Regions from separate parts of the Homo sapiens genome. Here region 2 is linked to region 1. The links come from fine-mapping of genetic effects on gene expression. Tissue or cell type: minor salivary gland. Region 1 holds a variant in brackets; the other region holds the start of a gene. All regions are shown on one strand. Distances are between the middles of the regions.

Evidence for each region. PIP is the estimated chance that this variant, and not a neighbour inherited with it, causes the effect.
Region 2: RPL8 starts here. The variant in region 1 is fine-mapped to the expression of RPL8 in minor salivary gland (GTEx, PIP 0.97).

Annotation. Positions count from the first base shown.
Region 1 is chr8:144,764,301-144,772,399 of GRCh38, forward strand. It overlaps ZNF34 (zinc finger protein 34), which reads right to left. Exons shown (of 6, transcript NM_001286769.2): 6 at 7,924-8,099. LOC107986986 (a long non-coding RNA gene) reads left to right here. Exons shown (of 3, transcript XR_001746149.3): 3 at 1-1,207. LOC105375805 (a long non-coding RNA gene) reads right to left here and starts at 7,565. Exons shown (of 3, transcript XR_001746148.2): 1 at 5,910-7,565; 2 at 4,361-4,517; 3 at 1,310-1,694. RefSeq lists enhancers at 904-1,507, 2,364-2,658 and a silencer at 4,044-4,338. The variant TACAGGC/T (reference allele first, on the strand shown) is at 3,305.
Region 2 is chr8:144,787,888-144,795,986 of GRCh38, forward strand. It overlaps RPL8 (ribosomal protein L8), which reads right to left and starts at 4,503. Exons shown (of 5, transcript NM_001317782.2): 1 at 4,105-4,503; 2 at 3,886-4,027; 3 at 3,390-3,608; 4 at 2,468-2,583; 5 at 1,882-2,075. The coding sequence starts at 4,242. The coding sequence ends at 1,917. It overlaps MIR6850 (microRNA 6850), which reads right to left and starts at 4,104; the gene lies at 4,044-4,104. RefSeq lists enhancers at 2,181-2,682, 2,683-3,182, 5,595-6,543, 7,837-8,099 and a silencer at 4,205-4,424.

The DNA.
Region 1 (8,099 bases):
CTGGTGCGAGTCTTCAGAGCTGGCGGAAATGGGAAGCGGAGTAACTATTTTGGCAGAAAAATACGTAACTTCCCTGCGAACCGGAATCCCACGTGTACACATCCAGAGAGTTCCCTTTGTGGGTTCATGAGGGGACGCACGCAAGGGATGTCCCAGCAATGAGAACATGGAATGACCTGAATGAGAGCGGGGGAGGGGCCACCCGGGACAAAGCTGCAGGGACAAGGACCACTCATCCTCTGTTGCAACTTGCAGGCTCAGGAAGAAGGGTCTCCCCCGTCTACTGGAGTTCTTGACACTGGAATTTGGGGCTTGTCACAGGCCTATTCAGAAAGGGGCCTGGTCCTGAGAAATAATAGGGTATTGAAGGCTTGTGGCTATAATGCTGCCTGTAGTTCCAAAGCTGGAAGAGGCAGCCCACAAGCAGACAGGGCGCCGTTTCTCCTGTGTAGGTGGAGACTGGGCATAGTGGCTCACATCTGTAGTTCCAGCACTTTGGGAGGCCAAGGCAGGAGGATCGCTTGAGCTGAGCCCAGGAGTTTGAGACCAGACTGGGCAACATACTTTACTGGACATTTTGGGGACATTGGGAAAATTTGAACATGGGCTGGCTATTAAATGAGATTACAGAATTACTGTTAATTTTCTTAGGTGTGGTTATGTGCAGTGATGGTCTCATTCTTGAGAGGAGGGCTGCGACACTTGGGGAGATGTGTTACCAGCTGCAAATCACTTCCAAATGGTTCAGCCAGAAATACAACATGTAGAGAGCATTTCGGAGAACAGGACAACAGCGCGGCAGCTGCTGAATTCAGGTGGATATGGAAGGCGTGGTTTTTTTTTTTTTTTTGAGATGGAGTCTCGCTCTGTCACCCAGGCTGGAGTGCACTGGTACAATCTCGGCTCACTGCAACCTCTGCCTCCCAGGTTTAAGCGATTCTCCTGCCTCAGCCTCCCAAGCAGCTGGGATTACAGGCGCTTGCCACCACGCCCAGCTGTTTTGTATCTTTCATAGAGACGGGGTTTCACCATCTTGGCCAGGCTGGTCTTGATCTCCTGACCTCGTGATCCACCCTCCTTAGCCTCCGAAAGTGCTGGGATTACAGGTGTGAGCCACCGCGCCCGGTCGGAAGTAGTTGTTAATATTCTCTATGTTGGAAGTTTTTTGTAATGGAAAGTTGGAAGCAAAACAAGATAGGAAGCAAGGTGAACGCTGCAGAGTTCGACTGCGTCAGACGGACCAGAAGGCCGACTGCAGGCGGGCAAGGGCTATGCGGTGGCGGTAGTGGTTTGATACCTGACATTCCAGTAGAATGCACAAAAGCCTTTACTGAAAGGGCAGGAAGTCACAAGGCTTTCTGTAGGAAGAACACATCCCTGTTCCACTGGCCCTTCCCCCGTGAGCTGGGGTGGGAGCTTCTCCTGTTCCACTGGCCCTTCACCCGTGAGCTGGGGTGGGAGCTTCTGGGTGTAGCCGGTTGCTCCAAGGCCTCTTCCCAAGTTCCAGGTTTACACAGGAGGCCTCATGGCCACCTGTCCCATCACCAGGGCCTAAAACCTGGTTGCTCTTCCTGTGGTTTGGGGAATTGTGGGCCTGAGTGATGTGGTTCTTCTGTCGAAGCTGGGGGACTGAACCACCCTGACTTGGGTGGTGCAGAGTCAGGGAACACCAGATTTGTTTCTTCCAGCTGGGGCTTGGAGAAGCAAAAGGTGAGTACAGAAGATAAGCAATAAAACCATACTGTGGCCAGGCGCGGTGGCTCACGCCTGTAATCCCAGCACTTTGGGAAGCCGAGGCAGGTGAATCACAAGGTCAGGAGATCGAGACCATCCTGGCCAACATGGTGAAACCCCATCTCTAGTAAAACACAAATAATTAGCCGGGAGTGCTGGCGTGCACCTGTAATCCCAGCTACTTGGGGAGGCTGAGGCAGGGGAATCGCTTGAACCCGGGAGGCGGGGGTTGCAGTGAGCCAAGATCGCACCACTGCACTCCAGCCTAGCAATAGAGCAAGACTCCGTCTCAAAAAAAAAAAGAAATCATAACTGTATTTATTTGCCTCCAGTAATTTTTATCACTCTGCTTGATCCCAGTTACATTACTGAGGGTAGTGAATTCCATCTATTTTTTTCTGTAACTTAAAAGTATTTTTGGCCGGGCGCGGCAGCCGGTGGACCCATCCCAGCACTTTGGGAGGCCGAGGCGGGCGGATCACGAGGTCAGGAGATTGAGACCATGTTGGCTAACGCGGTGAAACCCCGTCTCTACTAAAAATACAAAAAAATTAGCCGGGCACGGTGGCGGGCGCCTGTAATCCCAGCTACTCAGGAGACTGAGGCAGGAGAATGGCATGAACCCGGGAGGCGGAGCTTGCAGTGAGCCGAGATAGCGCCACTGCAGTCCAGCCTGGGCGAAAGAGCGAGACTCCATCTCTTAAAAAAAAACAAAACTATTTTTGCCTTGTCTTAAATTGATCTCTAGCAGTGCCTTTTTCCCCACACCCACGTATTATTTCAGGGGTCAGTGACATTTGATGACGTGGCTGCATATTTCACAAGGAGGAAATGGATGCATCTAGCTCTTCACCAAAAGGCGGCTGGAGAACTGTGGGAACTTGACCTGGCTGGGTAGGCTCTGCCCTCTCCCCTGCCCCTCTCCAGGCTCTCTGAGTACTTCACTTGTTGAGAATGAGGGCAATTCCACATCCTTTCTAGACCTAGAAACTAGACCCTTTCTCCACGTGACAGACCTGAGCTCCACAGGGAGGAAAGAGGCTGGGCCTGAGGTAGCCCCTCTCTCCAAGTTCCCTATAGATGTTGCACCATGGAATTCCACTCATGCTTGGCAGGACTTGCTGTCTCCCCAGCATGATTTGGTATAGTCCTGATGAATCTGAATTTTTTTTTCTTTTCTTTTCTTTTTTCTTTTGAGACAGGATTTCACTCTGTTGCCCAGGCTGGAGTGCAGTGGCACAATCATGGCTCACTGCAGCCTCAACCTCCCAGGCTCAAGTGACCCTCCCACCTCTGCTTCCCATGTAGCTGGGACTACAGGCACGAGCCACCACGCCTGGGTAATTTTTTTGGTTCTTTGTAGAGACAGGGTCTCACTCTGTTGCCCAGGCTGGTCTCGAACTCCTGGGCTCAAGTGATCCTCCTGCCTCAGCCTCCAAAGTGCTGGGATTATAGGCATGAGTCATTGTACTCAGCCAGAGTCTGAACCGTACAGGCATGAGTCATTGTACCCAGCCAGAGTCTGAACCTTACAGGCATGAGTCACTGCACCCAGCCAGAGTCTGAACCT[TACAGGC/T]ATGAGCACTGCACCCAGCCAGAATCTGAACCTTACAGGCATAAGCCCCTACTCCCAGCCAGAGTCTGAACCTTACAGGCATGAGTCACTGCACCCAGCCAGAGTCTGAACCTTACAGGCAGGAGTCACTGCACCCAGCCAGAGTCTGAACCTTACAGGCATGAGCACTGCACCCAGCCAGAGTCTGAACCTTACAGGCATAAGCCCCTACTCCCAGCCAGAGTCTGAACCTTACAGGCATGAGTCATTGTACCCAGCCAGAGTCTGAACCTTACAGGCATGAGCCCCTACTCCCAGCCAGAGTCTGAACCTTACAGGCATGAGCACTGCACCCAGCCAGAGTCTGAACCTTACAGGCATGAGCACTGCACCCAGCCAGAGTCTGAACCTTACAGGCATGAGTCATTGTACCCAGCCAGAGTCTGAACCTTACAGGCATGAGCACTGCACTCAGCCAGAGTCTGAACCTTACAGGCATGAGCCCCTACTCCCAGCCAGAGTCTGAACCTTACAGGCATGAGCACTTCACCCAGCCAGAGTCTGAACCTTACAGGCATGAGTCATTGCACCCAGCCAGAGTCTGAACCTTACAGGCATGAGCAGTGCACCCAGCCAGAGTCTGAACCTTACAGGCATGAGCACTTCACCCAGCCAGAGTCTGAACCTTACAGGCATGAGTCATTGCACCCAGCCAGAGTCTGAACCTTACAGGCATGAGCAGTGCACCCAGCCAGAGTCTGAACCTTACAGGCATGAGCAGTGCACCCAGCCAGAGTCTGAACCTTACAGGCATGAGCACTGCACCCAGCCAGAGTCTGAACCTTATAGGCATAAGCCCCTACTCCCAGCAAGAGTCTGAACCTTACAGGCATAAGCCCCTACTCCCAGCCAGAGCCTGAACCTTACAGGCATGAGCACTGCACCCAGCCAGAGTCTGAACCTCTTAATCACCTTGCACTCTTTTCTCCCTTTCCCCTTCTTTCTCCCTCAGCCATGACTCACCCTCATCCCTCCCCACCCCGGACATAGTTTTATCTTTAGAGCCCCTACCTATTCCACCATCCTGGGCCTTCCTACCTGGTCCAGCTGAATCTCTCTGCCTGCTCTCTGCAGACCGTAGGCTTTGGTTCTCAGCAGAAATGCACGTGTTGTGTTTCCATCTCTGCCAGCAGAATTTTCAGGCCTCAAACCTGACCTGATCTTCTAGCTGGAGAGAGAGGAAGAGCCATGGCTGCCAGATGTTCCAGGGACTGAAAATACAGACACACAGAGATGCTCCTTCCCAGGTGAGAAGAGGGAAGCAGTTCTGGAGGAGGCAGTAGTGGGATACATTAGGAGACATAACCTGAAAAAACAGAGCCAGGCGGCTGCGCGCGGTGGCTCACGCCTGTAATCCCAGCACTTTGGGAGGCAGAGGCAGGCGGATCACAAAGTCAGGAGACCATTCCAGCTAACACGGTGAAACCTCGTCTCTACTAAAAATACAAAAAATTAGCTGGGCGTGGTGGCAGGCGCCTGTAGTCCCAGCTACTCGGGAGGCTGAGGCAGAAGAATGGCATGAACCCAGGAGGCAGAGCTTGCAGTGAGCCGAGATCGCGCCTCTGCTCTCCAGCCTGGGCGACAGAGCAAGACTCCGTCTCAAAAAAAAAAAAAAAAAAAAAAACAGAGCCAGGCTGGGCACGATGGCTCACACCTATAATCCCAGCATTTTGGGAGGCCAAGGCGGGTGCATCACTTGAGGTCAGGAGTTCGAGACCAGCCTGGCCAACATGGCAAAACCCCGCCTCTACTAAAAATACAAAAATTAGCCAGGTTTGGTGGCATGTGTTTGAAGTCTCAGCTACTCACGAAGCTGAGGCAGGAGAATCGTTTGAACCCGGTAGGCGGAGGTTGCAGTGAGCTGAGATCACACCACTGTACTCCAGCCTGGGCGACAGGGCGAGACTCTGTCTCAAAAAAAAAAAAAAAAAAAAAGACGGGTGTGGTGGCTCATGCCTTTAATCCCAGCACTTTGAGAAGCCAAGGTGGGTGGATCACTCGAGGTCAGGAGTTCGAGACCAGCCTGGCCAACATGTGAAACCCGTCTCTGCTAAAAGTACCAAAAAAAAAAAAAAAATTAGCTGGGCATGGTGGCGTAGGCCTGTAATCCCAGCTACCCAGGAGGCTGAGGTAGGAGAGTCACTTGAACCCGGGAGGAGGAGGTTGCAGTGAGCCAAGATCGCACCACTGTAGTCCAGCCTGGGTGACAGAGCAAGACTCCATATCCAAAAAAAAAAAAAAAAAGAAAGAAAGAAAGAAAGAAAGAAATTAAGGGAAACAATTCCATTCACAAGAGCATTAAAATGAATAAAATATTCAGGAATAAATATAATCAAGAGGCAAAAGACTCATAAACTGAAAAACTACAAAAGATCACTGAAAGAAGTTAAAGAACACATAAATAAATGGAAATACACTTGCTGTTCATGGATGGGAAGACTTCATATTGTTAAGGTGACAATACTACCCAAAGTTATCTACAGATTCAATACCTATCAAAATCTTAATGGTGTTTTTTGTACATATAGAAAAACCCTTAACTGGGCGTGGTGCCACGAACCTGTAGTCCCAGCTACTCAGGAAGCTGAGATGGAAGGGTCGCTTGAGCCCATGAGGTCGAAGCTGCAGTGAGCTGAGTTTGTGCCATGGCACTCCAGCCTGGGTGACAGAGTGAGATCCTGCTTCAAAGAAAAAAAGAAAAAAAGGACTATCCTGAACTTCATATGGAATGGCAAGTGACCCCAAATAGCCAAAACAATCTTGAAAAAGAACAAAGTTGGAGGACTCACACTTCCTGATTTCAAAACTTAATACAAAGCTACAATAAAAAACAATGTGATACTGGCATGACAGGAAATAAAATGTAATACAATAGAGAGCCCAGAAACAAAGCCTTGCATATATTATCAGTTGACTTTCAGCAAGGATGCTTAGACCCTTTGTCGTTTGGGTCCCACCAAATTTTGTATGTTGAAGCCCCAACCCCCAGTGTGGGAGACAGTGGCTGTGAGAAGGTGACACAGGTTAAATGAGGCCATAGGGTGGGGCCCTAATGCAATAGGGCTGGTGCCTCTAAAAGAGGAAGAGACACCAGAGATCTGTCTCTCTCCACCATGTAAGAACACAGCAAGAAGGCAGCCATCTGCAAGCCAGGAAGCGAACCCTCACTGGGAACTGAATCGGCTGGCACCTTACCTTCCCAGCCTCCGGAATTGTGAGAAATAAATTTCTGTTGCTTATGCCAAGCCACCTAGTCCGTAGTATGTTCTTATGGCAGCCCAAGCTAATACATCATTCAATTGGAAAAGGAGTCTATTCAATAGATACTGGCTGGGCAAGACAGCTCACGCCTGTAATCCCAGCACTTTGGGAGGCCAAGGCAGGCGGATCACTTGAGGTCAGGAGTTCAAGAGCAGCCTGTCCAACGTGGTGAAGCCCTGTCTCTACTAAAAATAAAAAAATTAGCTGGGCGTGGTGGTGCATGCCTGTAATCCCAGCTACTAAGGAGGCTGAGGCAGGAGAATCACTTGAACCCGGGAGGTGGGGGTTGCAAAAAACTACAAAAGATTCACTGAAAGAAGTTAAAGAACACCTAAACAAATGGACGGATCCGCCCAGCTCAGCCTCCCAAAGTGCTGGCATTACAGGCGTGAGCCACCATGCCTGGACAAAACAGTTAAATTACCGTATGATTCAGCTATTTCACTCCTAGGTATATAGCTAAAAGTACTTGAAGTAGGGATTCGAAAACATATTTTCACACCAGTGTTCACACTAGCATTATTTACAATAGGCAAAATGTAGGAACACCCAAGTGTCCAACAACAAATTAACGGATAAACAAAATGTGCTACATACATACGACATAATATTACTTGGTTATAAAAAGTAATGGAAGCCGGGCGCAGTGGCTCACGCCTATCATCCCAGCACTTTGGAAGACTGAGGCGGGTGGATCACAAGGTCAAGAGATCAAGACCATCCTGGCCAACATGGTGAAACCCCGTCTCTACTAAAAATAAAAAATTAGCTGGGTGTGGTACTGCGTGCCTGTAGTCCCAGCTACTCGGGAGGCTCAGGCAGGAGAATCGCTTGAACCCGGAAGGTGGAGGTTGCAGTGAGCTGAGATCGCACCACTGCACTCCAGCCTGGCGACAGAGTTAGACTCCATCTAAAAAAACTAAAAGTAACAGAGGCCAGGCACAGTGGCTCATGCCTGCAATCCCAGCACTTTGGGAGGCCAAGGTGGGTGGATCACTTGAGGACAGGAGTTTGAAACCAGCCTGAGCAACGTGGTGAAACCCCATCTCTACCAAAAAATACAAAAATTAGCCAGGCACAGTGGCATGCGCCTATGGTCCCAGCTACTCAAGAGGGTGAGGTGAAAGAGTTGCTTGAACCTGGGAGGGTGAAGTTGCAGAGCCAAGATCATGCCATTGCACTCCAGCCTGGGTGAGTAAGACCCGGTCTCAAAAAAAAAAAAAGTAATGGAGTTCTGAAACAGGAAACAACACAGAGAAACCTTGAAAACATTATGCTGAATGAACTAAGCCAGACATAGAAAGAAACACAGATTGCATGATTCCACACATATTTATGTTCCTAGAATAGGCAAATTCAAAGAGACAGAAAATAGAATTGAGGTTACCAGCAGTAGGGAGAAGGGGGAAATGAAGAGTTATTATTTAATAGGTACAGGGTTTCTGTTTGGAGTAATAAAACAGTTCTGGAAATACACAGTGATGATGGT
Region 2 (8,099 bases), 24 kb after region 1:
GCAGAAAAACAGTGACCGCTTATGGCCAAGCTAAGCATCTAGTGCTTTCCCAAAACCCTCTTTCCAGATGCCCCTCCATCCTTCAGGAGGAAACACCGCCCTCCTGGATTCTTTCTCGACAAGTCAGCTGGGACCCTGGGACCGGCCCTGCGAATGACGAGATCAAAACCAGGTCCCGTAGTTACTGGCGGGGAGGCGGGGCTGGAGTGGGAGGACCACATGAGGCCAGGGGCTTGAGACCAGCCTGGCAATAGCGAGAGCCTGTCTAAAATAAACAGGCCCTGCTGGGTCACTGCCTAGGTGTGGTGGGCGCCCAAAGACAGGTGGGGCCATACCAGCAGGATCAGGAAAGCAAGATCACGAAATGGGGGGTAAGGTTCTCTAGAGACAGCGTGGACCATGACAGCCAGGAACCACCGCGCAGCCAGTTAGGACTTGTCATCCCGGAGTGACCACGGAAGCCTAAGGTGACTATTCTCACCTGCCAGGCACCCTCCAACCAAGTCTATAGGGAGAGACCGTGCCTCATCCTGCCTGCTGCAGTTCCACAGGAGTGTTGTTAGGGGCAGTGATCTGCAGCTGCTGCATTCGCTGGTGGAACTTCCTCGTGTGAAAGTGCTGATAGGATGCTGTCCTGGGATCTCCTCATTGGATCATGGTTAAGGGACAAGATGCCATGGGCTATGGCCAAACAGGAAGCCCCTCCACTCTGCCTTGTGACGGAAACCAGCTTACTTGCCCTCCCATTGCAGGGGGGGTTCCCCAACACTTCCAACCTGATTCCACTCAATCATCACTGTCAGCCTCATCACTACCAAAGCTAGAGAGAACCAAAGTATCAGCCCCTGCCAGCAGGGAAAGGCCATGTGCTTTAAGGTAATCAATGCAGCTTTGGGGGCTGTTCCTGGTTAGTTTCTCTGCCCCAGGGAAGAGGGGGCTACATGCCCTGCGAAGCTGTGGAGTTACAGGACTCAAGGAGCAGACCAACCTACTGCTGGTGCCAGCTCCAGTCCAGTGTAGGGCTCTGGGTGGGTGGGTGAAGGGACTTGGGTGGTCTGGGATTCCCCATACACACACTGCATGCATTCATCCCTTTGTTCAGCAATCCCAGCAGTGACCTGGGACCCCACACTCAATCACCACCCTCAACCTCACCTGTCACTATCAGGCTAGAAAATGAGGAAAGGCATGAGGCCCCACCCACCACCCACAGGAAAAAGCACCCAGAACCCTCCAGTCAGTGACCACTCCCCACCATGGCGGGGTGGGAATGCATGCAGAACAGAATGGTAAAAGCCAGGCTAGGAATGGCTTCCTGGCTGTAGACAGGGTGCCTGTCCCACATTCCTTCAGGGCCCATCCCAAGTTCCCAGTGCAAGGCAGACACCTGCAAGCCAGGTATCCCTGGCAGTGACTTAAACACACTGACATCAGCAGGGCTGTAGCCAGTATGGAGGGAAAGGGTGTCGCTAAAAGACCCTGGGCAAAGGACTGCCTCAGGTGCTGAGAAAGTTAGCAGGGAGCTGACAGAGTGAGGGTATGGTCCAGAACACCAGGCTCAACGATTGTGTCCTATTCTGTTTCCTGATACGTGAAATGAGTGTTCACATCCAAGCACTGCAGGCCATGGGACTGAGTCACCCACATAAGTGTCAGGTCCTGGATGCCACATTCTTGGTCCCCTCTGTGGGGAAGCAAGGGTCTTGCCCAGGGTACCTGCACCCCGTTTCTAGTTGTGGACTTTCCCTTCAAGCTTCTACCACTCACTGGTGGTCTACTTCAGTAGTCTAACTCCCTCCCAGTACCAACCAGGGGGATCCCACAGAAATCCTCCCAGCAGGGACCCCTCCCTTTGAAACCATGGGGGTGGGCACAGCCAGGTGGCATAAACACAAACTTTATTGAGGCCCTCAGCACTAGTTCTCTTTCTCCTGCACAGTCTTGGTTCCCCGGAGACGTCCAGTCCGGCGGGCAGCAATGAGACCCACTTTGCGGCCAGCAGGGGCATCTCTGCGGATGGTGGAGGGCTTGCCGATGTGCTGGTGGTTGCCACCTCCAAAAGGATGCTCCACAGGCTGCAGGCAGAGAAAGATGGCTTTAGAAACCTCTTCCCCACCACCCCCGCCCCCGGCCTCGGGGTCCCACCCGTCAGGGGCCCAATTCCGCGAAGCCCCTCTCCACAGCATGTGCCGCTAGACAACCCCAGTCAGGCTGACTCTTTCCAGCTCAGGCCCCCACTGCCCCTCCCAGCCTCCGTTTCTTGCGGAGAAACGGTGAAGGAGGGTGAGCCCACCTCCTTCAGGAGTGCTGGAGCAGGATCAACAGTCCCGTGACTACAAACCACCACCTGCTGCTCCTCCCACCGTAGATCCCCCTCCTGCAGGGACACCTGTGGATGGGACTTGCCTACCCAACAGTGTGGCCACTGTAACTTCAATACCCAACCCTGCATTTCTGGGTTACTTACATTCATGGCCACACCCCGTACTCGTGGCCAGCAGTTCCTCTTTGCCTTATATTTGTGGTACGCCCGGCCAGCCTTCAAGATGGGTTTGTCAATTCGGCCACCTCCAGCCACCACACCTGTAGGGGATCAGATACCTCAGGGAACCCCCAGTCGGTCAGAGCACCCCCACCTCCCCTCAATCTCCTGTCATGCACCTTCCCAATACTGCATCCAACTACCCAGCAAAAAGCCCACTCGCCTCCACCCTAGGGAGCCCCTTGCACCCTGTGAGCTGACATCCAGTTTCTTCAATCCACAATGGGCAGGCAAGCCAAGGCCCTCACCTCCATCACCTAGAATGCTGGCTGAGCTCCAAGCGCAGGGAAGCACCCCCCTCACCATGTGTGAGACGTCAGGCCGGCCACTCAACCTGACGTAAGACACTTGATTCAGCCTGCCCCATCTCAGCTTTACTTATTCCAGGAACACAACCTCAGAGCCTCCCCTGTGCGAGGCTGAGTTCATCACAAGGATTCCAAGATGTTCCCAAACAGCACAGTGAGTTAACCTAGACTCAAATCCTTTTTCACTCACTCAGTAGGCGTCTTTGAGAAAGCCACAATCTCTCCCTGCCTTCTCTAAAAAGGCTGTTAACCAACTGCATGCAAGTGCAGCAATCAGGAAGCCCACGGTAGAATCCAAGACCCTGGTGACTTCGTCCCAATCTCATTTAACGCCTCAACAGCAGTAAAGCAGGTACTGTTGTGCCTGTTGTACAGTGATGACAACTGAGACTACAGGATGAGCTCAAACTTACAGAACCCAAGTTTTAGAACAACAGGTAATCGAATTCCAGGGACCAAGTCTAGCCACTGGCTGTCCACCGGCACTCACAGCATGTTCACCCACAGCCCTCAGCATTCAACTGCTGCCTGATACTCACCAACCACAGCTCTGTTGGCTGAGGAGATAACCTTCTTGGAGCCGGAGGGCAGCTTCACACGGGTCTTCTTGGTCTCAGGGTTGTGGGAGATAACGGTGGCATAGTTCCCTGATGCCCGGGCCAGCTTGCCACGGTCTCCAGGCTTCTCCTCCAGGCAGCACACGATTGTACCCTCAGGCATGGTGCCCACAGGGAGCACATTGCCAATGTTGAGCTGGGCTGCAAGGGGAAGCAGCATCAGGCCGTCAGCACAGTAAGAAACAATGCGAACCCCCTCGCTCTAGGCAACCCGCGAAGTTGCGAGCACAGCATTCAACATCCAGCCTCCCGGTACAACTCTCTCGGCACCCACCGGTGGCCACTGGTCTGGCCACGCGGATGTCCCCACCTGAAGCTTCTGCCTGCGAGGTTCCCATATCGGCTTAGGACGTTAACTCCTCAGGCAACACCCAGACCCCTCCCCACCCCGACCTTCCTTCCCCGCCGCGATGCTAACCCTTCTTGCCGCAATACACAAACTGGCCCGTGTGAATGCCCTCGGCGGCAATGAACAGCTCCGTCCGCTTCTTAAACCGATACGGATCCCGGAAGACCACCTTGGCGAGGGGCGCGCCGCGGCCCGGGTCGTGGATGATGTCCTGTGGGCAGAGGCGGCGTGAGTGCGGCGTTCCGGCCGGGCGTCCCTTCCCCTCCCGCCCCGGCCAGCGTTCCGCACCTTGACGATGCCCTTGATGTAGCCGTGCCGCTCAGCGAAATCCACGGCGCGCAGGCGCGCAGCGCCTTTACGGTGCTTCACGTGCGCGCGGAACACAGACCCGGCGCCCTTCCTCTGTCCACGGATCACACGGCCCATGGCGACGGGTCCTGGGGGCGACTCACGATTAGCGCGGCCGGGCGGCCCGGGTACCCCCGCCAGCCCGGCTTTCCGGGACCCCGCCCCCGAGGCCGCCGCGCCCACCACTCCCTACCCTCTCCGCGGGCGCCCGCACCGGCATCCTCTCAGGAGGGCCGGTCCGGGTCTCAGCGCGCCTCACGGAAGAGGATGGCGGCGGATACTGCCCATGCCGCAAGGCCGCAAGGATGACCTACCTGTTCACCAGCGCGGCCGAAAGAGGAAACACGGCGTCAGCGAGCGGCCTTATCTTCCGGGGCGGGGCCCAGGGCCGCGACACCTTCCGGGCGCGCCACGGCCAGCCTAGCGCGGTGCACGCCGGGGCTTGTAGTCACCAGCGGCCGCCGGCCCCGCCTACTTCTCCTCCTCCAGGGCCCCCGCGCAGGCGCACCAGGAGACGCGGCTGAAGGTGTCCTGGTGTGCGTGGGCTCGGAAGGAGGGTGCAGGAGTGCTCGGCTTTCACCGGGGTCTCCGGGAGGGCAGGTGTTTTCTGAGTGGCCGAGGAGGCGCCAAGTGGTTGAGTGACCTGTCCAGGGTGTCACAGAGCGACCCACTCCGGGCCACGGGGTCTGGGGCTCCCGGCTTGCCTGGTGAGGGGCTTCCGTGTAGGCCGAGGGGGTTCTCGCTGGTGCAGAGCAGGAGATGGGCAGGGGAGACGCGTGGACCCACTCGTGGAACGTCATGGTTTGCAGGTGGCAAATGTCCGTCTCCCTGATGAACGGGCGCTTCTGGACGCGGGGACCTTATCCACTGTAGGCCCTTGGAGAGGTCGGGCGTCGAGGAGAGGAGCCCCGGGATCCTTGCCGAGGGTGAGGGCCGGCCGGCCCAGGAAGTGGGGAGGGCCAAGCTGGAGGGTCCCGGGTCGAGGAAGAAGGAGCGGGGATGGGCTGGGTCACATGCTGCGGAGTGGACGAATAATGGGAGACTGGACCGTACCCTGACCAGAACCCTGTGCGGGAGAGGTGGGGAAGGAGCAAGAAATGGAGGCTGGGAGGGGCTGTGGGGGCCTGAGCTGGAAAGAGTCAGCCCGACTGGGGGTGTCCTGCGGTACGTGCTGTGGAGAGGGGCTTCGCGGAATCGGGCCCCTAACGGGTGGGACCCCGAGGCCGCGGGTGGGGGATGGTGGGGAAGAGGTTTTCCAGGAGAGAGTCCCTGGCTGAGTGAGCACTGTCGAGCACACGCGAGGCCGTGGGTGGGGAGGCAGCAAGGAGGTGAAGGCGGGGGTCCCAGTGGGCGGGAGAGGCTTGCTGTCGGTACTGGGAGGTGGGGTGTTTCCTAGACCCTGCAGGGGCTGAGGCAGGGTTGACATCGTGAGAAGGAGACAGGAGAGGGTGGAAGGGTGTCCTGTGCCCGCTGTTGCTCACAGGGGAGAGGAGGGGCTGCTGCAGGAGGCCCTCCCCTAGGGTCGGCAGGGGGATGGAGGAGGAGCTGCCCGGTGGGGACTCAGGAAGCAGCACAGCCCACAGCTAGGGCCAGGGGCTGAGGGGCAGGACTGGACCCTGGGGGCAGGGTGAGGGGTTCTGGGGTCAGCCCAAAATTGGCCCACAGGCCCAGCCTGTCCGTCACTCCTGAACAAATCTGCTTCTCTGGAGGAGCAGAAGGAGAGTTGGGTGCGGGATAGAGGTGAGAAGAGTGCTTGGACACACAGGCTGTGGGGTCCCCAAGATGGTCTCACGGGTCTCTGGGATGAGATGCGGCTACCAAGACCCTACGTGCAGCCAGGAGACTGACCAGGCCGCTTTAAGGCTGGAAGAGACATGGCCCTGCCAGCATCCACCTGACAGTCCTGAGGACTGTGTGACTGGGCTCAGTCTTGACCTTCACGGGAGACCACACAGCCTGGTACACAGCAGGGGCTATGCAGTTCTGGGTCACTTGACAGCCACTCCAGACGAGGCCGCAAGCACTGGACATGGGGTTTTCCAGCCTTCTGGGGTGGAGCCATCTTTCTTAGGCCAGGATTAGTCCCTCCCCACACAGTGCCTCTGCTTGTGCTAGTGGCCTGGTGACCTCCCTTATGCCATCCGACGTCACCCCAACCTGCTGTTCAAACTTTATTGTTAGAAATTATTTATTTCCGGCCGGGTGCGGTGGCTCATGCCTGTAATCCCAGCACTTTGGGAGGCCGAGGCAGGCGGATCACCTGAGGTCAGGAGTTCCAGACTAGCCTGATCAATATGGACAAACCCCGTCTATACTAAAAATACAAAAGTTAGCTGGGTATGGTGGCAGGTACCTGTAATCCCAGCTACTCGGGAGGCTCAGGCAGGAGAATCACTGAAACCCAGGAGGTGGAGGTTGTGGTGAGCTGAGATTGTGCCATTGCACTCCAGCTTGGGAAACAAGCGCAAAACTGTGCCTCAAAAAAAAAGTTATTTCCTTCTGAAATTGTTCTTCAAATGTTTCTTGTCACATACATGCAGCAGTAATTTGGTAGAAACATGAGAAATTGTGATCCTCTGTCTTGCTCAGCTTGGCTCCCCTCCCCAACCAGCATTATCTGCCCGCACCCCCAATCCCCAACAACTGATGTGTCCTTATCTCCCTGCCCCCTACCGCGCCCCCGTAGCATAATTGTATGCCACATATGGGCACACCATCACATATGGCTAAAATGGGATCACTCCGTAATGAATGAATATATATATATATATATTTTTTTTTTTTGAGATGGAGTCTCGCTCTTGTTGCCCAGGCTGGAGTGCAATGGCGTGATCGGGGCTCACTGCAACCTCCGCCTCCCGGGTTCAAGCGATTCTCCTATCTCAGCCTCCCGAGTAGCTGGGACTATAGGCGCACACCACCATGCCCAGCTAATTTTTGTATTTTTTAGTAGAGACGGTGTTTCACCATATTGGTCAGGCTGGTCTTGAACTTCTGACCTTAGGTGATCCACCTGCCTTGGCCTCCCAAAGTGCTGGGATTACAGGCATAAGCTACCGTGCCTGGCCAATGCTAGGCACTTTTTATGGGCCAGGGACTGATCTAAGTACTTTTCATGCACACTGCTTTTCTTTTCTTTTTTTCTGAGATGGAGTCTCACTCTGTTGCCCAGGCTGGAGTGCAGTGGCGCGATCTCGACTCACTGCAACTTCTGCCCACAGAGTTCTAGCGATTCTCCTGCCTCAACCTCCCGAGTAGCTGGGATTACAGGCGCCCGCCACCGCACCCAGCTAATTTTTTGTATTTTTAGTGGAGACGGGGTTTCACCATCTTGGGCAGGCTGGTCTTGAACTCCTGACCTCGTGATCCACCCGCCTTGGCCTCCCAAAGTGCTGGGATTACAGGTGTGAGCCACCATGACCCACCTCATGCACGCTGCTTTTCTAATTTAGTGTCTTATAATTGTGGAGCTATGTCTTGTGAAAAGGTATTTCCAACAAGATTCTCTGAGATAGTTTTCCCATGTGCTTTCAGTGCCTCAGGGGTGGGGTAGTCCATAGGAGCCCCTGTTACCCATTCAGGAGTGGGTGAGGGGAGACCCCAGGGACCAATGCCAGCAGGAAGAGGTGGGGTGGTTGGGAGGATGGAGATTGCACATGCTTGGGGACAGCTTGGAGGTGCGTGTTAGAATTTTTCTGAGAGGGGTTAAGGTGCTGTTTTGTGAAGCACAACGAGTTAGTGAGTGCTAAATCTCCATGACCCCTGCCGTCTATATGGCTTGGATACGTCATGTCAACCTGACATAAAGCCATGGGTGAACATTCTCTGGGACCCCACCTGTGTGTGGGGAAAAGCAAGAGAGATCAGATTGTTACTGTGTCTGTATAGAAAGAAGTAGACATAGGAGACTCCATTTTGTTCTGTACTAAGAAAAA